Linked DNA regions of Homo sapiens: region 2 is linked to region 1. The links come from fine-mapping of genetic effects on gene expression. Tissue or cell type: whole blood. Region 1 holds a variant in brackets; the other region holds the start of a gene. All regions are shown on one strand. Distances are from middle to middle.

Region 1 (8,251 bases):
CCCTAAACGACCTTATTTCCAACTTCCTCTAGCACCTACCCATCAGACCCCCAGGATGAGATGAAGTAAGAGGCTGAAAACAAGCAAGATGACGAACATGAGCATAGCAGAACCAGAACGCAAGTCATGGCTGGGGGGTGGCAAAAGGAACTGAATACGGAACAGAAACCCTTAACTTCTCTTGCTGCTGCCCAATCCTCTTGTGATTCCAGACAGCCATTTCATTTAAAATCCCTTTCAGAAGCCTGTCATCTTGCATTAGAGCTGGGAGGGGGGTTGTGTTCTGGGTTGGCTGATGATACATGGACTTCTGAGACATGCACCTAGGCGGACTCAACAAATATTAAACATCTGCTCGGTCAGACCCTCTGCTCAACTCTGCACACACAAAAGACAATGAGATGCAGAATGGTGGGTGCCAGGGGCTGGAAGGTGGAGGGTTCAGAGAGTCAGTGTTTAATGGGTACAGAGCTTCATTTGGGGAGGATGAAGAAGTTCTGGAGATGGATAGTGGTTACAGTTGCACAACAATGTGAATGCACTTAATGCCACAGAAGTGTACGCTGAAAAATGGTTATAATGGTAAGTCTTACATATACTTAATCACATTAAAAAACAACAACAACACATTTTTAAAGGGTGGGGGGAAATGAGACAGCCTTCCTCTCCTCCCTCTGAAGAGGCTTTCTTTTGAATTATTCGACTATCTTTCCTGCAGACCAAATATTCTGAAGTCTTCTGCATGTCCTCTTCATCATCACAGTGATCTACCCAGCGGCCCTACATTTAGAAATCTCTATTAGTTCTGGGTACGAGCCCCGTGGAGCTCTGTATTCCCAACATGTGCTCCCCAGTGCCAACCCACCACCTGTTCAGCTCAGGCTGAGGTCACTCACTCTCCCCACCTCAAAAAGACCCAGGTATACGAATAAAAGGTGTCCTCTATTAAGACACAGATCTAGAGGCCAAGTGCTCCTGGAGGGCAGTAACTATCTCTCATACAGACTGTCTCCAGCCCATGAAACAGGCCATATTCCAAAAGTCTCCAAAAACTTTACCAAGAAACGTTATGGATAATGTTTTAGTCCTCAGTAAGCCCACAAAGCCTGTTTACCATAAGTCACAGAAATATCACACATTTACAATTAAAACAGGCAGGCCGGGCACGGTGGCTCACATTTGTAATCCCAGCACTTTGGGAGGCCGAGGTGGGTGGATCACCTGAGGTCAGGAGTTCGAGACCAGCCTGACCAACATGGTGAAACCCTGTCTCTACTAAAAATACAAAAATTAGCCAGGTGTGGTGGTGCGCACCTGTAATCCCAGCTACTCGGGAGGCTGAGACAGGAGGATCTTGAACCTGGGAGGTGGAGGTTGCAGTGAGCCTAGATCGCACCACTGTACTTCAGCCTGGGCAACAGAGCAAGAGTTCATCTCAAAAAAAGCAAAAAGAAACCAAAAAACAGGCAGAAAACAATACCAGTTGCATGTAGTCTAGAGTGCCAGCTACACACTGCCCTCCTGTCCTCCCCTCAGTGCCCACCCCCAAATACCCACCGCCACGTGGGAGCAGGTCTCCCTCCAACAGCATGGCAGCCCAGGTTTTGGAGTCAGACTTGAGTCTGAATGTGGGCTCTGCTGCTTACTGGCTGTCCAACCTCAGGCAAGTTACTTAACTTCCAAGTTAATTTCTGTAAGCTTTGGTTTCTTCATCTTGCAAATGAGGATAATATTGTCCACCTCAAAGGGTTCTTGTGAGGGACAATGAGATTACAGAAGGAAAGAACCTACTGCACAGTAAGTGTTCATTACGGTTCTTATTCCAACCCCAAACACCCCCTTCTGAAATGAATCTGCATCATAATATAAATGACTTTATCACAGCAATCTTTGTTCCAAACAGAAGACAGACAGAAAAAGGACTTACTAGAACCAACCAACTTCCTTTTTTTTCTTTTTCTTTTTCTTTCTTTTTTTTTTGTGACGGAGTCTCGTTCTGTCGCCCAGGCTGGAGTGCAGTGACGCAATCTAGGCTCACTGCAACCTCCGCCTCCTGAGTTCAAGCGATTCTCCTGCCTCACCCTCCCCAGTAGCTGGGATTACAGGTGCCTCCCACCATGCCTGGCTAATTTTTTGTATTTTTAGTAGAGACAGGGTTTCACTATGTTGGCCAGGCTGGTCTCGAACTCCTGACCTCAAGTAATCTGCCTGCCTCAGCCTCCCAAAGTGCTGGGATTACAGGCATGAGCCACTGCGCCCAGCCCAAACCAACTTCTGATCCACATCCTGCCTGTTCCCCCTACCCTGCTTCGACACGTGGGGCTCAGGTAGTTTCCACTGTGAGGAATGACCTTGTTAAGGTTAGGCGGACTCTCTCCACCTCCTCCAAACCTTAGCTACCCAAGGCCAGGAGCCTACCAAGTTCTGCTCTCTTGACTGGGACTGGGAAACAGCGAGCTGTGGAAGGCAGCTCTGCACAGCTCCAGCTCATCCCGCTCAGCTGTGCTGCTTCCCAGCCACTGGTCCACCCTGAAAGGATACACTAGGGCAAGGTGTCTTCTACTGTCTCTGGTCACTCCCCCAGATGTAAGTAATGACATTCATTCACCACACCTCTGTCTTCAAAAAGACAAGTGTAGGATGAAAAGACCCCAGAGAAGAGACGATGTGCTGGCCCCTCTCTAAGACGCCACATGCACCTGCCTATCTTTGCCTCACGCTGCTTAGGCTTTGGGGCACTCTGTCCAACTGTTTTCTTGAAGACTCTTTCCTGAGTCACTTAGAACTAAAGACTAAGTATTGCAAGCTTCAGCCACTTTCTTAAAAATGTGCCTTGAAAGAAAGAGTGGGTGGGTGGTGAAAAGAGAACATGAAAATCTTCCTTACAGTCTGGCTGGGAGCCTACCTATTTTACCTCCAGAGGTATGCTAGCAGACAAAAGCTGCTAGATATGTGCCATGCACAAGGGTAATTTAGAGCCCACATTCCTCTCTCTACCTGGAAAGAAGTACACAGGGGACTTAGGAACTACTTCCTACTTCATGGAAGAAACCTGTCCAGTCCCTCCCCGGGTCTCTCCCATGTCCATAACAAGTTCATGAGAGGTACCAGTGGCAATACGGGTGGAAAAACAGTTCTTCGATGCACTGTCCCAGACTCTGCCAGATGGTTAACATCCCCAATCCCCATGTGCTAAATGCCGTTAGTGCTCCCAAGGCAGTTTTTTTTTTTTTTTGGACAGAGTCTCGCTCTGTCGCCCAGGCTGGAGTGCAGTGGCGTGGTCTAGGCTCACTACAAGCTCCGCCTCCCGGGTTCATGCCATTCTCCTGCCTCAGCCTCCCAAGTAGCTGGGACTACAGGCGCCCACCACCGCGCCCGGCTAATTTTTTTTTGTATTTTTAGTAGAGACGGGGTTTCACCGTGTTAGCCAGGATGGTCTCGATCTCCTGACCTCGTGATCCGCCCGCCTCGGCCTCCCAAAGTGCTGGGATTACAGGCGTGAGCCACCGTGCCCG[G/A]TGCTCCCAAGACAGTTAATCCTCCCTCCTCAGCATTTCCGAACACCCCCTGGAGGCCAGCGGTGCCCTGGCTGAGAACCAGAGTCAGCACCTGTACTGCTTTGTATCCCACCGTGCCCAGCATATACTGGGCACCCTGTACTAATTGTGGATTGAATCTAGTAGGAAAGGTCCAGTCACAGACATACTTAGATCCATGTCTCTTACCAAGTAATTTCTGAACCCCTACTGTGTGCTCAGCATCTTTACAGGGATCAAGAGGAAATATGGATCACAGTCTCTACACATAAGGAAGTGGTAGGAAAAACAAGACCATAAAACATTATTCAATATAAGGCAATATATAAGCCAATGCTAAATTGTAAGGTCTGTGAGAAAGTGGATGATGTGATCAGTAAAGGCTGGCAAAATCGGAGGGGGGGCTTTGTGGGAAAAAAACATAAGTTGAGGTGGCTCTTGAAGGAGGTGGGATTGTCTTCATTCAGCCCTACCGATCCTCAGTCTGTCCCTGCCAGGACCGCTGTTCATAGAAAACTCCTCTAAGCCTGTGGTTCTAGGAGCAATTCGGCAACCCAAGCCCTTCAAATCCCATCCCCAGGTGGTTCCTGGAACAAGACGGTGTGAGAAATTTCCCATTCTTTGTCAGAAGACCAGAGAATATCAGGCCTGCTTTCAGGAGGCCTGCTCATCCCAAAGGCAATGGAAGAAACCACTGGCGGAAGTGCCCGTGCGGAGATGCCCAAGACAGAACCAAAAAGCATTTGGTGCTACGTGTACATACTGAGTCACAGGCTCTAAGTGCTGGGGCCCCCAGTTGTGACCACAGACACTCCCCACGTCGCCTGTCCCGTGTGGCCCTGGAATTTACCTGCTGTGGATGAACCTGAGGTCTCAGCTATCTCCTCTGTCAAAGGTCTTCCTGTCTCCTCCCTCGCCAACTATCACCACGTTTCTTAGGCAGCTCGTCCCCATTTCCTCCATTCATCTCTCTCCAGCCACCCAGGCTCCTCCCACAGGCTGTGCCACCAAACTCTCCTCACAGCCCACCTCACCGTCTTCTACGCTGCCATCCTCCCGACATTCAAGCTGGTCCCAGAGCCTGGCTCCTTCAGGAAGCCCAAGACTTGTGGCTTCCCCAACCCTGTTTCCTTTCAAACACGCAAAATCAGTAACACTCCCCCTCCACACCCCACTCATCCTTTACTTGTATACAATGTAAATGGAGAGTCTTGTCTATTTATATACACTATCTATCCAATGTTAGAAAGAATCCCACTTCCCACAGACCATGCAGCTAAGCTGAGGGCTGGGCCTACTTGTTCTTATTTCCGTGAGACTCACCTACCTTCCAAACTCCAGGCACCCCTTAGGCTAATAACATCTAGGGATACACCCTCCTCTCTCATATACCCCATTCTGAGGAGCCACATCTAAACTACAGACCCAGGACCCAGAGTCCCTCCCCCAGTAAGTAAAAATGAGGATTATATGAGTCATAAGCTCTTTCCATATACATGCTCTTAACTTTTGAGACAAACAAATAAACCATTTTTTTTCCCCTCCCACAGGAAGATTCAGAAGAAATCCTTTTGGAATTAAGCCTGGAGTTTCCACCCCATCCTCAGGCTTCTTGCCCTCAATTGTTGACCAAATGCTTCACCATAAGAATGGCCCCATTCCAGAGTCTCCCAATTCTCACCATCACCAAACTCTACCTGCTGGTTCAACTCTATCTCATCTTTCTGCAGCAATGCCAGTTTAGCTTTCTGACATGATTTACGTCTCTCTCAATCAACTAGATATTTTTGTCTTATAAAAGTTTTGTCTCGTAAAAGCAATTTTTTTTCCATGACACAGCCCTCAGGAGATCCTGAGAACATATGCTCAAAACAACTCTTGTTATATGTGCCCACGGCATGTTAAAGTTTTCACTACAGTCCTTATCATGGCTTGCAATCACACACACACACACACACACACACACACACACACACACACACACATTAATAAATAATTACTTGATTAATGTCTCTCCCTACTACTAGACTGTATCACCACTGTGTCCTCTGTGCCTAGTTCTAGATCTTTCCTCAAACAGAACACAAAATCCTACCCACACGTAGCACGTACAACCTCAGGCTGTCTAGCCACTGGACAAAATCTCCAGGGGCTCTCTTGGGTCACTACAATTCCATCCCTCTTTTCTCTCCTCCCTTTACTATTCCCGCCCTTAGTAAGAACAAAGAGCCTCAAAACCCTTTTTCCATTACCCCCTAGAAGAGCTTCCTATAGATAAGAGAAGCCCAGTCTCAAGTCAAGGACTGGTTGGTTCGGAGGAGAATGGCAAAAGAACTGGAGAGAGCAAATGGCCGTGAGCTGTGGACAGGATCCAAGTCTTCTACCAAGTCACGTTTTTGTATCTTACTATACTCTGTGTGAATTCAAGAAATGCTTTGAGAGTTGACTTATTAACCTGATCACTTTTGTTCTGTCTTCAATCCAGGAAAGAGAAGACTGAGACAGATAGTAGTAAAAAGTAGGTGTCGAAGGGAGTGGGGCTGAAGACCAGGTTTCAAGATGACTGCCCACTGACCACAGAAAATGAGTGTAATTCATGGAAATCAGGTTTAACAAAAATGTCCCAACCTTGAAGGTTGCAGGATATTGAGGAAAACAGTAACAGTTAAGAAAAAGAGTCTAGGCCGGGCACGGTGGCTCGCGCCTGTAATCCCAGCACTTTGGGAGGCTGAGGCGGGCAGATTACAAGGTCAGGAGATCAAGACCATCCTGGCTAACACGGTGAAACCCCGTCTCTACTAAAAATACAAAAAATTAGCCAGGCATTGTGGCGGGCGCCTATAGTCCCAGCTACTCGGGAGGCTGAAGCAGGAGAATGGCGTGAACCTGGGAGGTGGAGCTTGCAGTGAGCCAAGATCGCGCCACTGCACTCCAGCCTGGGCGACAGTGCGAGACTGCGTCTCAAAAAAAAAAAAAAGAGTCTAGGCTTGGAAAGGCATTGCTTTGCTTGGGTGGATGTCCCCAGAGATCTGGTTAAATAGCTTAGTAGAGGACTGAGTACTATATTACATCCTTTCCATAGAATCTGGAACCTGATTCTCAATACATAGACTGCCAATGCTTGGCGACTGACTGGTGGAGGACAGGGGATTATTGATAACTTTCTCTGATTCAACTTTGTCTGGAGACAGAAATATTAGACAGGCAGACTCTCACCGGCTTCTGGAGATGTTCTCCAGTCCAGAATTGCTTTATGTTTCTGGGTTGAGAGGTTACTGCATGCCTTATCTACAGACCTACACCAGAATACAAGCTTATCAAGAGCGGCTGCACACTTCCTGCCATCATGTCCCCTAAATGACAAACAAAGATGGTTTACATGTGCAAGTTGTGTGTGCTACCCTGTCTTAGGCACACAGTTCAATGCGGAAAGGAATGGAGGCCAGATGTGAAGTCAGGATTCTACCCAGCAGAGTTTTAATTGAGCTCCTGGGGCAAGAGTGAGGGGGTGGGCCAGCTGGCTCTCTTGCTGACCTTACTGTTATCTTAACTGTCAAAACCTCCCTGCTGTGTATATCCCTAAGGACTATGGCAAACTGTCCTATCCCATAGCATAAAGGGTGGGGATGTCTCTCCCTCTGTTTGGGGAATGACTGATCACCTAGTTTCAGCCAAGTTCTCAGTAATCTTCCTTCCGTCATTTTGCCAAGGCAGCATTTCACTTCATCTAAATGCCTCGAGCTCTCCAAACAGCCCCATTCCCCTTTTGCAATTTTCCAGGGGAAAAAAGTCACTATTGAATGTCCTTACTTCTGCAGCAGGAGGTCACTCTTCCCATTCTCCTGCCTAAGGCATCTGTCATCAACATTTGGACAGCTAGCACATCAGAACACAGAGGCAGTCCCACGTTGCTCAGCAGCCTAGAAATACATGCCCAGAACTGCCAGCTTTCCGAGTGGTGCTGGCTCCACAGCCGCATGAAGAGAGGAGGAAGGCGAAGACACTTATCCAAAGAACAGACACAACAACACAAAATCATTTGAAAAAGAACATCTCTGTCAGCAGCTACCACCGAGCAACAAGTCCTCCTTGAATGTGCTCCATGCTATGATTTCAATCCAGCGACGCTAAGCATAGCTCCACAGTTTCAAGGACACTGCAGTCAAACTTCGAGCTGGATGGTAAAAAGAAGCTGTTTGATTTACGAAGTGGGTCAACCAAAAGGAGCAATGCAAAAGGAAAGAGGTCAGGCCGGGGCCTGCCCCCTCCTTGTCCCATCCACTTCCACTGATATTTATCCTTTGTGAGAAGCCAAGAGTTCCAAGTCAGAAGGTTCTCCTGGAATATAACCAAGCTTAGACACAGAGGCCCACATTTTCTCTTGGATGATCCTAACTTTACTTCAAGGGCATCGCTCAGCTGGAGGCTTCCAGAACTGTTTACCCCAGACAAGGTCTGATTCTAAAAACATCCCAGAAAAAATATATTCTTAATTGTGCATAAATAAAAGAGGGGCAAAATGAAGCCTAAGAAGCCTGGGGTTTATTGAATACTTTCTCTAAGCAAGCACTGCACTGTGTTGTAAGTGGCACGTGTTGTAAGAGGCACTTCTGCAACAAACGTTTGAGCCCCCATTATGTGCAAAACATGCTTACAGGCACTGGGGATACAAAAATGAACAAAACAGCCAAAATCTTAGCTTTCACCGAACTGTTTGT
Region 2 (8,000 bases), 150 kb before region 1:
AAACAGCTCTGCACACTCCTATTTACAAGGATATTAGTCCTTTTGAGATGGGGAGACAAATGAAGTAAACAGAGGTTCTCTCCCCTGGATCCTTGCATTGACCTAAATGAATCCTATCTGTCATATAACCTGAGTAGCCAAGGCCTTCCTCTTTAACAACTCTGCTTGCTAAATATTACCTTCTCTAACTATGAGGTATAAAGCAAGCTTGTCCAACCTGCGGCCTAGGATGGCTTTGAAGCAGTCCAACACAAATTCATAAACTTTCTTAAAACGTTGAGATTAGGCCGGGCACAATGGCTCACACCTGTAATCCCAGCACTTTGGGAGGCCGAGGCGGGTGGATCACCTGAGGTCAGGAGTTCAAGACCAGCCTGGCTAACATGGCAAAACCCCGTCTCTACTAAAAATACAAAATTGGCCGGGCGTGGTAGTGGGTGCCTGTAATCCCAGCTACTCGGGAGGCTGAGGCAGGAGAATCACTTGAACCCGGGAGGTGGAGGTTGCAGTGAGCCGAGATCGTGCCATTGCACTCCAGCCTGGGTGACAAGAGTGAAACGGTCTCAATAAATACATAAATAAAATAAAATATTATGAGATTTTTTGCAATTTTTTTTTTGAGACGGAGTTTCTCTCTTGTCACCCAAGCTGGAGTGCAATGGCGCGATTTCGACTCACTGCAACCTCCTCCTCCCGGGTTCAAGTGATTCTCCTGCCTCAGCCTCCCGAGTAGCTGGGATTACAGGTGCCCGCCACCACGCCTGGCTAATTTTTTGTGATTTTAGTAGAGACGGGGTTTCAACATGTTGGCCAGGCTGGTCTTGGACTCCAGACCTCAGGTGATCCACCCACATCAGCCTCCCAAAGTGCTGGGATTACAGGCATGAGCCACCACGCCCGGCCAGTGTTAGTGTACTTTATGTGTGGCCCAAGACAATTTTTCTTCTTCCAATGTGGCCCAGGAAGCCAAAAGATTGGACATCCCCGATATAGAGCTTAAACTCAGTGAGATCTGAGGGTCAAACTATAGCCAATCTCCACCCTCAACCCAGCTTCAATTTCCTTTCAAAGCAGAGGCCTTACCACCTTCTTCAGCTAAAGTGGTTAAGAGAGGACATGGCCCGAGGGAACCTGGGCAGCTTTATAGTCCCATGGAAAGATGGCCCCTGAATCCTTGGGATGAGTAGACTGCTGTAAGGGAAGAGCCAGACCCGAGCCTACCTTGTCCTCACCTCAGGTGTTCCAGGGTGGTCAGCCGATCTCCACCCCCAAGGTTGCCTTCCCAGAGCCTCAGACCCATGCCCCAGCGTTATGGAGATGTCTTCTGGAAGAACCTTAATCAAAGGCCCACGTGAGTAGAGGAGAAAATGGAAACTAACTGGATGTGGTCTTAACTGGATTAAACTACCATAAACCCATATAGCAATAGGCCCTAGTCTGCGGTTAATTTCCCACTGGCTGGTGGACATTGTAGCTCCTAATGACAGAAAGGAGGTCGGGAGAGATTATTAAAGAAGCAATATGGATGGACATGTCCCCTCTGCACTTATAGCCCCCTTTTTGTTCTTCACAGCCCCACTTGGCTGGAGGAGCAGCACATTCCACCCATGCTGGTAAGACAGACCCTCTGCCGTTTAACATTTCTCTGTTAAAATTGCACCCACTGCTGTCCTGTCCCAAGCTCTCCTTATTACCGCTTCCCTCTGTTATTCCCCAACCAGTGCACTGACCAGGCCTTCCTTTCTATGAATCAGTCATCATGTTTTCGAGATCACAGGGGTCTTCCCAAGACCCCAGACTCCCTACCTAGTTCAATCCAAGCTCCCTTGAGAGAGCCAGTTCTTCTTTCTAGCTCTTTTTCCCCATTCTCTGGCACAGAGAGCCACTGGTTGCTCCCAGCTTGGTCTGTATCCTCCTGAGCAGCTCCCACCCCCTGAAATGCTTTGGAGAAGAAAGAAGAGGAGGCCATGTTTGGAAGGAATGCAGCAGCAGGGCCTTGGGGGAGTCCCCGCCCGGGTGAGGGCTGTCACTTACCACCTGGAGGACCTAAGAAGGCGTCAGAGCATCATCAACGAGTAAGGAAGGGAGACATCTGGGTTCTGGGAGTCATGCAGGATTTGGGGGCAGAACAGTTTGAGCTAAGGAAGGGGTTGACAGCTTTGAGGGGAGGTTTGAGGGGAGCTTTGAGGGGAGGTTGCTTGGAAGGAAGCTGTGGGCTTTGGTGTGATTGAAACAGATTTCTGTAATATGGAAAGAAGGAGGGAACTGCAGTAAGGAGGATGAGCCACATGAGCTGGAAGGAGTGGAAACTAGATCACTGAAGACAGGAAAGCAAACCATAGAACTGGAGGACAGTGGGGAGGTTGGGGTCACCTCTGGGTTCCTAGACAATATGCTTCAGTCTGAGGGGAGCAGAAAATTGGGAGTGGAGGGTTAAAGGTCAAATGACAACTCCCTGGAGTCCCAGCAGGAAGTATTTCAGAACAGAAAGGTGAAGAATGGAGAGACAGGAAGCCTGGCCTCCAGGCACTTCTCTCCTCAGCCTAAAGTCTCCACAGACTGAAGAAGGCCCAGTGGGGCAGCTCTGGGGCTGCATCTGAGCCAGTGGTGCTTGGCGAAGAGGGCTGTGGATTCCCCAGCACCAATGAATACCCTGATCTGGAAGAGGAGAGAGCAACCTATCCACAGGAAGAGGACCGTTTTCTCACTCCTGGCAGGGCCCAGGTATTGTTGGAGTGGAACTGGGTGGAGTGAGGGAGTGATGTGGGTCTCTGGTCTTGCATGGAGATGCAGAAGCTGAGAGCCAGGCTGGAGAGCTGGATTTGAGAGAAACAAAAATAACGTAGGTGAGAACCAGAGACTTCGAGGTACCTAAGCTTGGGTACTAGGAAATCTGGAAAGAAGACCTACTTTTCCATTTTCTTTTTCAATTTCTCTCATCTTGACAGCTGCTTTGGTCTCCCTGGAGCCCCCTGGATCAGGAGGAGGCTTGTGCCTCCAGGCAGCTGCACTCTCTGGCCTCGTTCAGCACTGTCACAGCCAGAAGGAACCCCCTTCACAATCCCTGGGGGATGGAGTTGGCAGCGTCTGAAGAGTAAGGAGAAACCACCGATGCCGAGAGGCTAGTGGTGCCCCAGGGACCCAAGACTAGTTCCGTCACTAGAGTCACCCTCATTGCTGACATGAAGGCGTTTCCCCTTCCTTCGTCTCTCCAACTGCCTTTCCCATCCTCTGAACTAGGCATTAACAGCCCCCGTGGGCTCCCATCTCAACCCACCGCTCTCACAGGAGCACCCCAAGTCCTGTTTTCCTCCAGGCCCCGCTCCTGGCCTTGTATTCTCTCTGCTCTGTTATTAAAAAGCAAGCAAGTGGAGCCCGAGTTGTCTTTCTTCTTGGGATGCAGCGATGGAGAGGCCAATGGGGAAGGAGGGCTCCTTTCGCTTTCTCGAGGACCCAGCTACAATGAAGTCGGGCTGGGTCCCCAGACAAGGAGTCTTGTCCGAGGCGAGAAGGGTCCTGCTCCCAGTCCAGCGTTCCTCGCCCGGCCCCTCGGGTTCCAGCACTGGTGGGCTGCCCCCGCCCCGTTCTCTCGAACTGGGAGTCAGTCGGCCGAGCTTCCGCCTCCAGGACCCTGGAATCCTGCCCCTCAGTGCTGCTGCCCTTTTGGGGACTTCCCAGCAGTCTGTCCCTCGGCCTGGCTCAGAGCCCTAGAAGCCGAGTCCCTCTGCCCAGCGCCCCACCCAGAACTCCACGTGTGCTGACCCCAGGTTCCCTTCCTGACCCTCATCCCCTTAATTGGGAGGCCCCGCCCCGTGCGCAGTGACGTTAGACGCCGCTGTCAGCCGGCGCTGGGGGGGGTCGGTGTGGGGTAGAATGGCCGCTGCCGCCGTCACCCGCGGGACCCCGGGAGGTAAGAGCCAGGGCCTCTCGCCCGCCTCTCCGCCCCCGCGCCAGAGGGCGCAGCTCCTCCAGGTCCCGACGCGGAGCGCCGCGCCAGGGACCACCGTCCCTCTTCCCGGTTCGCCCTCACCTCCCGCTTCCGTCCTCCTCCCCCGCGCCAGGGGGCGCCGCTCACCGCAGGGCCCCACGGCGGACCAGCGCGTGCCGGGGACTGTCCCGGAGACCCCCGCACCCGGCACCTGCACTGTCCCTCGCCCACCGCGTGCCCGCGGACTCTGCTCCCGGCTTCTCCAGAACATCCCTCTATGCGGGCGGGACCCTCCCACCTCGGAGGTTCTCCTGGGACCACCACTCCGCCGGGGGGCCGCCCAGAGTGCCAAGCGTCCGATCCGGCGCCGCCCAAGTGCAGCCCAAGGACCCGCTCCCGCTCCGCACCCTGGCAGGCTGCCTAGCCAGGACTGCGCACCTGCGCCCTGGGGCGGAGTCCTTACCCCAACCCCAGCTTCACTGCACATAGCCGAGCCCGACGGGCCTCCTCCCATCTCCATCCTGGACACCTGGCGGAGCCCGTGCTGAGAGCCTCCGCCAGCTCCCATCTGTTCCCCGAGGAGGGCGGGGGGCTCAGGCTGGAGCCAGAGCGGTAGATGGGGTAGGCTAGGCCTGGAGGCCAGGGGAGGCAGAGGCGTTTGGGGAGAGGGAGCTACGTAGAGAGGGCTGTCAGCCGGAGGGTGGGTTGTCCTGAGGGTGGGAATCTGGGTGTCTGGCCCAGATTCTATCAGGTCCTAACCAACCTGGAGGAGAGAATAGGTTAGGTTCAGTTATCAGATCTGCCCTTCCCCTTGGAAAAATCAAACAGAGAAGGAACTCAGGGCGTGTCTTCTAAAGGCCTAGCTTCTACCGGAGGTAGAATCTCCTGCCCTGCCCCCAGGATCCAGGCTCTCTTGCCAAACCATCCTCCAAGGACCGGATGGCCTGAGTCCCAACCCCCAGGACCTGACCCAACCATAGCCCCAGTCTGTGCAAAAGCTCAAGGTTTAGGGCCTCTGAGGCCCAAGCCCTGCCAGTCTTCTCCCCGCTCCCCCACCCCAACCCATTTCTTCCTGCTCACTCTTCCTGTCCAGTCTGCTCACTCATATTGGCTCCGGGCACTGTGTGTTGTTCTCTCTTCTACTGTCACATCACAGTCAGCCCCTCCCTCCCTTTCCTCATCCTTCCCAGATACTATGACCCAGTTCTATACCCACTCCCTACCTCATACTTCTCATCCTGGATTAATGTGGGGGCTTCTGCCATGACCTTGTTCTCTCCCTTCCCAGCACAGACTCCCCCTCCCCCCGGCCCCTCAGGCCGGGGGTGACCTTGCCCCCTGGAGCCCTCACCATGAATACCAAGGACACCACCGAGGTTGCTGGTAAGTTCACAAACCAGGTTCCCAATGTGGCCACAGCCTTTCGTTCTCCCCACGCTTTAGTGGCCCTCTAATTCTTGGATTTTCTGTTCTCCTTAGTGAGGTTTCAGTTTTCCCCAGTGCTCTGTATTGCCTTCAGCCCTTTCCCCTTGGACTATCACAGGGATGCCCCAGGGTAGCACACTAAACCCTCCCTTCTAATTCCCTTTAGAAAACAGCCACCACCTGAAGATCTTTCTCCCCAAGAAGCTGCTGGAGTGTCTTCCTCGCTGCCCGCTGCTGCCTCCAGAGAGGCTACGGTGGAATACAAATGAGGTTTTCTAGGGAGGCTGGGGGTTGGGGCCCAGCAAGACCTAGTAGGCTGGAGGAGGGTGAGTGGGGGGTCTTTCCGTGTCTGTCAACACTCCTAAGTGCAGAGCACCATTCTAAGCTCTTTGGGGATCCTAGGAGAGGTATAAAAACATGGATCTTGGCCGGGCATGGTGGCTCATGCCTGTAATCCCAGCACTTTGGGAGGCTGAGGCGGGTGGATCATCTGAGGTCAGGAGTTCAAGACCAGCCTGGCAAACATGGTGGAACCCCGTCTCTACTAAAAATACAAAAAGCAGCCAGGCGTGGTGATGTACGCCTGTAATCCCAGCTACTCGAGAGGCTGAGGCGGGAGAATTACTTGAGCCAGGGAGGCGGAGGCTGCAGTGAGCTGAGATCACGCCACTGCACTCCAGCCTGGGTGACAGAGTGAGACTCCGTCTCAAAAACAAAAACAAAAAGACATGGATCTTGAAGGAGCCCTCTTTTCTGTGGCATAGCCACCTGGGTAAAAACAAAAGCTACTGCCAGTAAAGTATTCCTTACATACTGGGCACCGTGCTAAACATTTGGCCTGCCTTGTCTCATTTAATCCTCTAACGGTTCTATAGAGCAAGCCCTGTTATTGCTCCTATGTTATTGATGAGGAAACTGATTTACCTCATAGTTTATCTAACTTACTCCAGGGCCTTTTTTTTTGAGACGGAGTCTCGCTCTTGTTGCCCAGGCTGGAGTACAATGGCGCGATCTTGGCTCACTGCAACCCCCGCCTCCTGGATTCAAGTGATTCCCCTGCCTCAGCCTCCCAAGTAGCTGGGATTACAGGCATGTGCCTCCACGCCCGGCTAATTTTTGTTTGTTTTTTTTTTGAGATGGAGTCTCGCTCTGTCGCCCAGGCTGGAGTGCAGTGGCGCGATCTCGGCTCACTGCAAGCTCTGCCTCCCAGGTTTACGCCATTCTCCTGCCTCAGCCTCCGGAGTAGCTGGGACTACAGGCACGCCACCACACCTGGCTAATTTTTGTATTTTTAGTAGAGATGGGGTTTCACTATGTTGGCCAGGCTGGTCTCGAACTCTAGACCTAGTGATCCGCCCATCTCGGCCTCCTACAGTGCTAGGATTACAGGCATGAGCCACCACGCCCGGCTGGAACCTTTGTTATTAACCACCACTGATACTGGCTCTTTCTGGAGGAGGCACAGTCCTTGTGTTACACATTTTCTGTATTCTGCATACTTACTGCCTTGTATGTAGTTGGTTGTTGATATTTATCAATTTGATGTCAGAAGAGGACTGTCAGTAAAACGATGCGTGTATGTGTGTATGTGTGATTGTTGTAAGTGCTATAGAGCGTTTAGGAAGGTCCAGTGTGGTCAGCAGGGCTTCATGGAGCATCTGAAAAGGGGTTTGGTTTATAGAATGGCTATGATTTCCAGATATGGAGAGGTGTGCACATGGTACCTGCCTTGTAGGGCACTAACATGCAGGAGGTAACTATTCAAAGCATGTTCAGGAAGGAATCAATGGATCCATCTGGCAGGAATTGTAGGAGCAATATGGGTAAATAGTGGGAACAGTGAAAGTTTGATCCCTTGTTGGGAAGAACCTTGGAGTCAGGCTAAAGAATCTGAAACTCCTGCCAGGCACAGTGGCTCACGCCTGTAATCCCAGCACTTTGGGAGGCTGAGGCGGGTGGATCACGAGGTCGGGAGATCAAGACCATCCTAGCTAACACAGTGAAACCCCGTCTCTACTAAAAATACAAAAAATTAGCCGGGCGTGGTCGTGGGCGCCTGTAGTCCCAGCTACTCAGGAGGCTGAGGCAGGAGAATGGCATGAACCCAGGAGGAAGAGCTTGCAGTGAGCCGAGATGGCGCCACTGCACTCCAGCCTGGGTGACAGAGCGAGACTCTGTCTCAAAAAAATAAATAAATAAATAAATAATCTGAAATTCCTGGCAGTGTCAAACCACTGAAATTTTTTGAGTCAGGAAGGGGCACAGAGGCCAGGAGTGGTGGCTCATGCCTGTAATCCCAGCACTTTGAGAGGCTGAGGTAGGCGGATCACCAGAGGTCAGGAGTTCAAGACCAGCATGGCCAACATGGTGAAACCCCGTTTCTACTAAAAATACAAAAATTAGCTGGGCACGGTGGCAAGTGCCTGTAATCGCAGCTACTCTGGAGGCTGAGGTAAGAGAATTGCTTGATCCTGGGGGGCGGAGGTTGCAGTGAGCTGAGATCATGCCATTGCACTCCAGCCTGGGTGACAGAGTAAGATTCTGCCTCAAAAGAAAAAAAAAAAAGTCTGGGCACGGTGGCTCACGCCTGTAATCCCAGCACTTTGGGAGGCCAAGGCGGGTGGATCACCTGAGGTCAGGAGTTCGA

Evidence for each region. PIP is the estimated chance that this variant, and not a neighbour inherited with it, causes the effect.
Region 2: CAMTA2 starts here. The variant in region 1 is fine-mapped to the expression of CAMTA2 in whole blood (INTERVAL, PIP 0.93).

The regions. Positions count from the first base shown.
Region 1 is chr17:4,837,207-4,845,457 of GRCh38, reverse strand. The region is part of intron 1 of MINK1 (misshapen like kinase 1); the gene reads right to left. Among named protein-coding and RNA genes, the nearest start is that of MINK1, 8.0 kb to the right of the region's middle. The variant G/A (reference allele first, on the strand shown) is at 3,516.
Region 2 is chr17:4,983,503-4,991,502 of GRCh38, reverse strand. CAMTA2 (calmodulin binding transcription activator 2) reads left to right here and starts at 3,828. Exons shown (of 23, transcript NM_015099.4): 1 at 3,828-3,910; 2 at 5,217-5,311; 3 at 5,520-5,623. The coding sequence starts at 5,281. It overlaps INCA1 (inhibitor of CDK, cyclin A1 interacting protein 1), which reads left to right. Exons shown (of 7, transcript NM_001394789.1): 3 at 1,238-1,351; 4 at 1,574-1,613; 5 at 1,879-2,075; 6 at 2,559-2,724; 7 at 2,949-3,373. The coding sequence ends at 3,098. CAMTA2-AS1 (CAMTA2 antisense RNA 1) reads right to left here and starts at 3,759. Exons shown (of 3, transcript NR_187235.1): 1 at 3,278-3,759; 2 at 2,911-3,087; 3 at 1,558-2,816. RefSeq lists a silencer at 3,809-4,348.